Homo sapiens: one gene and its partner. The protein of the gene in region 2 purifies or fractionates together with the protein of the main gene of each other region. This does not show direct contact. Each region holds a gene or a part of one and is shown on either strand. Other genes may lie near its edges.

The links. The genes of interacting proteins can lie anywhere in the genome.
Region 1: the proteins of MANBA (region 2) and NUCB2 fractionate together in Homo sapiens (co-fractionation; one large-scale study listed by BioGRID). This does not show direct contact.

What each region holds. Positions count from the first base shown.
Region 1 is NC_000011.10:17,307,739-17,311,238, forward strand, and holds part of NUCB2 (nucleobindin-2 isoform 1 preproprotein), read left to right. Parts: intron 1-1,833; coding exon 1,834-1,937; intron 1,938-3,086; coding exon 3,087-3,272; intron 3,273-3,454; coding exon 3,455-3,500. UniProt on the Homo sapiens protein: Calcium-binding protein which may have a role in calcium homeostasis. Acts as a non-receptor guanine nucleotide exchange factor which binds to and activates guanine nucleotide-binding protein (G-protein) alpha subunit GNAI3.
Region 2 is NC_000004.12:102,754,469-102,757,968, reverse strand, and holds part of MANBA (beta-mannosidase precursor), read left to right. Parts: intron 1-3,500.

The DNA of each region.
Region 1 (3,500 bases), on a different chromosome or scaffold from region 2:
ACTGTGTATCCCTGTAAGATTATCTTTAGGATAATTTCCCCACAGTGGAATTGCCAAATCAAATTATATATATATATTTGTAATTTTGATAGATATTGCCACATTTGCCTCCATAGAGGTTGTATCAATACACATACCCGCCAGCAATAATTCCTCACAGGCTTACTAATGGCATGTGTCATCAAACTTTAGGAGTTTTCCATTCTGTTAGATAGTATAGCAGTGCAGTTTTAATATGTATTTCTCTTATTTTGAGTGAGGTTAAGGGTCTTTTTATATATTTCACTGTCTGGTCATTTTTTTTAGGGCTAAGTCTTAAAACAAGTATTTTCTTCATAAATAGAACTGCTAGTACAGTGCCATACTTAGAATTCAGTGAAAACTTGGTTGAACCAGATTTAGCAGTTCTTCACTTTCTGGCATAACAATATGTTCCAGGATCAACTTGTACCTACCTTGCCCCAGCTCTGGAATGAGCCATTTCTCTGAGGAGCACTGGTTTTTCTTAAGGGGCAACTATATTTTAGATCAAGAGCTGGCACTAGGTACGCTCCTTGCTACTGGAGTGTATTTTCTTGGCACCTTAATTGCATGGAGCTAGGAAATATGCATGTCTATACACATAGACACATATATAAACACATACATATTCATATACATGTGAAACATGCATATACATGTTAAATGTACATATTTTAGAAATGCTGAGTTCACACAGATAGTGCTAATTCCCATTCATCTCTAGCAATTTCTTTCTTGCCTTTCACCCTTCCATATTTGTATATTCCTTCTTCCTAAATGAGAGCTGATTTCCAACAACTTCAACAATGTACCCATTTTGCTCAATTCTAGAAGGGCTCGTATTGCGTTGTTTCTGGTGAGCTGTCTTGTATGTATATCCACTGTGTATCCATTACATGTGTCCACTATGTAATACAACTGAAACAATCCAGCATCACTTCACCCATTTCACTATAGTAAATTGTAACTTGTTTTTTAAACGTTAAAAAAATTGATATTTCCTTAAAAATACTTCATAATTAAAAGGAAATTTACCTAAATTAGATTTTTATTGTTTCATAAGTGATCCATTGGAGCAATATACAAGGAATTCTTTCATGTAAGCTTTAGAGCAATTATTTTTAGAAATTCTACTTAAACCTTTGATAAGGATACTATATTAGAGATTTATTAAAAGCAGGATATTTAGTAGTTTTAAGATAATTAAAAAGGGTTTGTTATTGTGCTGATAGTCAACTAGTTATTTAAGATATAACATTAAAATATGCATAAGGCCAGGCATGGTGGCTCATGCCTGTAACCCCAGCACTTTGAGAGGCTGAGTTGGGAGGATCACTTGAGGCCAGAAATTCAAGACCAGCCTGGGCAATATAGTGAGACCCTGTCTCTACCAAAAATTAAAAAAAAAGAAATTAGCCAGGCGTAGTGGTGCACACCTGTTGTCCTAGCTACTTAGGAAGCTGAGGTGGGAGGATTGCTTGAGCCCAGGAGGTCAAGGATGCAGTGATCCATGATTGCACCATTGCTCTCCAGCTTGGGTGACAGAGCAGGACCATGTCTCAAAAAAAAAATGAGAGAGAATTTTTAAAAATATACATGTTAAATTGCATTCCACTCTAGGTTCAAGGACACTACCTTTAACTAGAATAACATACGCAGTATTCATAAAGTAAATATAAGCCTTTATTCTAAAACTTTGGATTTCCTTATAAAATCCTATAGGAATAAATATGAAATCTTTTTCTTGTGTATAATTATTATGTTTCTAGCTTCTAGAAATTGATCATTTACAGTTTTCTTATTTTCTTTCAGATATAGGCATGGACCACCAAGCTCTTCTAAAACAATTTGATCACCTAAACCACCTGAATCCTGACAAGTTTGAATCCACAGATTTAGATATGCTAATCAAAGCGGTGAGAATAATTCCAAAAAGTTTTGTCTTTATTGTGCCTTTGAGGTTTTGTAATTTGACAAGTAAACCCAATGAAATGGAAATATAACTTTTATATATTCTGTAGAAGTTCTTTAAAGGAAGGTAGCTTAACCCTTATTAATACAGATATTAATATGTACATACAGGTCTAAAATCCCTTATCCACAATTCCTAAATCCAAAAGCTGTAAAAACTGAAACCTGGCCTGAATGAACCAATTATAGTAAAACCATTTACAGTTTTTATTTAACCTACTTAGTGTGAATATTTATAGATTTTGCTTAAGAAATACTAGTCTGTTTGATTACAGATGCTACAGGGATATTCCATAATATGGCATATGTACCATATTCCCTTTCTTTAAGGTAGAAAATTCTGAGCACATCTGGCCTCAGAGATTCCAGATAAGAGTTTGTGGACCTCTCACATTATGTGTGAATGGAACTAGTTCTAACCTGGCAGGTATTAGATTAGTTAAATGGTTAGAAGCCATTTTAGTTTTCTGTACTGTCTAGATTTGATAATAGTTCCTTTCTTCTTCTTTTTTTTTTTTAAATCAACTTACATATTACTTGCTTATGAGGAGTTTCCTAAAGTTGGGGCTAGCTTTGAACTTTTAGTTTCTTTGAATACTCTCTGGTAATAATGATGACTAAAATTGCTGGGCATGGTGGCTCATGCCTGTAATCCCAGCACTTTGGGAGGCCAAGGAGGGTGGATCACCCAAGGTCAGCAGTTCAAGACCAGCCTGGCCAACATGGTGAAACCCTGTCTGTACTTAAAATACAAATATTAGCCGGGAGTGGTGGTGAGCGCCTGTAATCCCAGCTACTCGAGAGGCCTCAGGAGGCTGAGGTGGGATAATCGCTTGAACCAAGAGGTGGAGGTGGCAGTGAGCCGAAATCGTGCCACTGCACTCCAGCCTGGGTGACGGGTGAAACTCCGTCTCAAAAAAAAAGAAGAAAAAACTTGACTAAAATGAAATGGTAGAATTTAAAAAGAGGAGTCCAGTATGTTTTTGCCCTCCCGTACCACTTCTGTTCAAGAGTATGCTATATTCAAGAATGGCTTTATTTACATTTTTCAAGTGAATGTTTTTATTTAACTTAAATGCATTATTGCATTTCAGGCAACAAGTGATCTGGAACACTATGACAAGACTCGTCATGAAGAATTTAAAAAATATGAAATGATGAAGGAACATGAAAGGAGAGAATATTTAAAAACATTGAATGAAGAAAAGAGAAAAGAAGAAGAGTCTAAATTTGAAGAAATGAAGAAAAAGCATGAAAATCACCCTAAAGTTAATCACCCAGTAAGGATTGTGACTTTATGAAACCATTTTTAGATAAAGATACTTCTTCGTATCAGCGGATTTTTATTGTGTTATTAGTACTTAAATCTTGATTCTTCTGCCAAGTTCCTCAAATTTATATTTTGAGTCTGTACAGATAGATTATATTTTGTTTTGAGCAATTTTTTAAAATTGGTTCACAGGGAAGCAAAGATCAACTAAAAGAGGTATGGGAAGAGACTGATGGAT
Region 2 (3,500 bases):
GAGGCAGGCACGAGCTTGACAAGTTTCAGGAATAGTCAGCAGGCCAGTGTGGCTGGAGACCTGGGAACCAGAGGGTAGGAGAGGAGTTCAAAGTCTAGGGCACATCATGAAAGGCTGTGAGCCATAGGAAACACTTTGGCTTTTATTCTACATGTGATGGGAAGTTATTGGAGGCTTTGAGCTTAGAGTAGCATGATTAGATTTGCCTTTTTAAAGGTCACTCTGTTGTGTGAAGGCTACAGTGCAGGAGAGTGGAAGCCTGGAGACCAACCAGGGGACTATTGCTGGTCTATGTATGGGCAAGAGATGACTTCTGGCTTGGACAAGCATGGTGGCAGTGAAATGGTGAGAATGGTTGTGAGAACACGTTTTACATGTAGAAACAAGAGGATTTCTTCAGTTGGATTTGTTAATGGATTGGGAGACAGAAGGGGGAGGTGCAGGAAAATACCAGGATTTTTTTTATCTGAGCTGGTTAAATGAAATTTGTATTTAGTGAGAGATTCTGTGGCTAGTCTTGGCTATTTCCTAGGTGATTCTCTGGGTTTTCTGTACAGAATCTAAACCTTTGGTTTCTTAGAGAGTCTTTTGGGTTCTCTGTGAAAAGTTATTCCTTCAGCCTGCTATTTTTTTTTTTTTGAGACGGAGTTTCGCTCTTGTTGCCCAGGCTGGAATGCAATGGTACTATCTCGGCTCACCGCAACCTCTGCCTCCTGGGTTCAAGAGATTCTCCTGCCTCAGTCTCCCAGGTAGCTGGGATTACAGGCATGTGCCACCATGCCTGGCTAATTTTGTACTTTTAGTAGAGACAAGCTTTCTCCATGTTGGTCAGGCTGGTCTTGAACTCCCAACCTCAGGCCATCCACCTGCCTCGGCCTTCCAAAGTGCTGGAATTACAGGCATGAGCCACCGTGCCTGGCCCTCAGCCTGCTATTATGCCACACAGTGTAATAGGCATTAGGAATAAAAAAAGAAATTGAGAGTGAGACTATAGTTCCTATTTTGTGGGAGGCCACTTTAGTGAGGCAGAAAACTAAATAATTTCCATATGTTATGTTAAGTGCATACATAAAGGGACCCTTGTTAGGAATGTTCTCAGCTTTTCTGTGGAATTTCTCACTGGTGTAAGTTTTGAAGCAACTGCTTCTTTTTTTTTTTTTTTTTTTTTTTTAGATAGTCTCTGTATGCCAACATTAAAATATATAGATAAGTAAGAAGAAGGTTGGAAACATCACTCCCAGAGATAACCACTATTTTTTTTGACAGCTGTTCATGTGACTAATGCCCCCAACAGTTTTATATATTTATTTATTTTTATTTTTTATTTTTTCCCTTTTTTTGTTATACTTTAAGTTCTAGGGTACATGTGCACAACGTGCAGGTTTGTTACATATGTATACATGTGCCATGTTGGTGTGCTGCACCCGTTGACCCGTTAACCTCATTTACATTAGGTATATCTCCTAATGCTATCCCTCCCCCAGCCCCCAACCTCATGACAGGTCCCAGTGTGTGATGTTCCCCATCCTGTGCCCAAGTGTTCTCATTGTTCAATTCCCACTATGAATGAGAGCATGTGGTGTTTGGTTTTCTGTCCTTGTGATAGTTTGCTCAGAATGATGGTTTGCAGCTTCATCCATGTCCCTACAAAGGACATGAACTCATCCTTTTTTATGGCTGCAAGGTATTCCATGGTGTATATGTGCCACATTTTCTTAATCCAGTCTATCATTGTTGGACATTTGGGTTGGTTACAAGTCTTTGCTATTGTGAATAGTGCTGCAGTAAACATACATGTGCATGTGTCTTTATAGTAGCATGATTTATAATACTTTGGGTATATACCCAGTGATGGGATGGCTGGGTCAAATGGTATTTCTAGTTCTAAATCCTTGAGGAATTGCCACACTGTCTTCCACAATGGTTGAAATAGTTTATAGTCCCACCAACAGTGTAAAAGTGTTCCTATTTCTCCACATCCTCTCCAGCACCTGTTGTTTACTGACTTTTTAATGATCACCATTCTAACTGGTGTGAGATGGTATCTCATTGTGGTTTTGATTTGCATTTCTCTGATGGCCAGTGATGATGAGCATTTTTTCATGTGTCTTTTGGCTGCATAAATGTCTTCTTTTGAGAAGTGTCTGTTCATATCCTTTGCCCACTTTTTGATGGGGTTGTTTGATTTTTTCTTGTAAATTTGTTGAAGTTCTTTGTAGATTGTGGATTAATTAGCCCTTTGTCAGATGGATAGATTGTAAAAATTTTCTCCTATTCTGTAGGTTGCCTGTTCACTCTGATGGTAGTTTCTTTTGCTGTGCAGAAGCTCTCTAGTTTAATTAGATCCCATTTGTCAAGTTTGGCTTTTGTTGCCATTGCTTTTGGTGTTTTAGTCATGAAGTCCTTGCCCATGCCTATGTCCTGAATGGTATTGCCTAGGTTTTCTTCTAGGGTTTTTATGGTTTTAGGTCTAACATTTAAGTCTTTAATCCATCTTGAATTAATTTTTGTATAAGGTATAAGGAAGGAATCCAGTTTCAGCTTTCTACATTTGGCTAGCCAGTTTTCCCAGCACCATTTATTAAATAGGGAATCCTTTCCCTATTTCTTGTTTTTGTCAGCTTTGTCAAAGATCAGATGGTTGTAGATGTGTGGTATTATTTCTGAGGGCTCTGTTCTGTTCCATTGGTCTATATCTCTATTTTGGTACCAGTACCATGCTGTTTTGGTTACTGTAGCCTTGTAGTATAGTTTGAAGTCAGGTAACGTGATGCCTCCAGCTTTGTTCTTTTGGCTTAGGAGTGTCTTGGCAATGTGGGCTTTTTTTGGGTTCCATATGAACTTTAAAGTAGTTTTTTCCAATTCTGTGAAGAAAGTCATTGGTAGCTTGATGGGGATGGCGTTGAATCTATAAATCACCTTGGGCAGTATGGCCATTTTCATGATATTAATTCTTCCTATCCATGAGCATGGAATGTTCTTGCATTTGTTTGTGTTCTCTTTTATTTCATTGAGCAGGATAACCACTATTAAAGTAAAAATTCAGTGCATCCATTCTAATTTTTTTAATGCATACACTTTTATAAGTATTAAATATACAGCTTAACAACTCTTGGGCAGGCACAGTGGCTCACGCCTGTAATTCCAGCACTTTGGGAGGCCAAGGCGGCAGATCACGAGGTCGGGAGATCGAGACCATCCTGGCTAATACGGTGAAACCCCGTCTCTACTAAAAATACAAAAAATTAGTCCGGCGTGGTGGCCAGCACCTGTAGTCCCAGCTACTCGGGAGGCTGAGGCAGAAGAATGGCATGAACCCGGGAGGTGGAGCTTGCAATGAGCCAAGATCACGCCACTGCACTCCAGCCTGGGTGACAGAGCAAGACTACATCTCAAAAAAAAAAATAAATAAATAAAATAAAATAAATAACAACTCTTTCACATTTAATGTATTGTGATGCTCTTACCTGCATTAAACAGGTTTCTATAAACCATGTTTA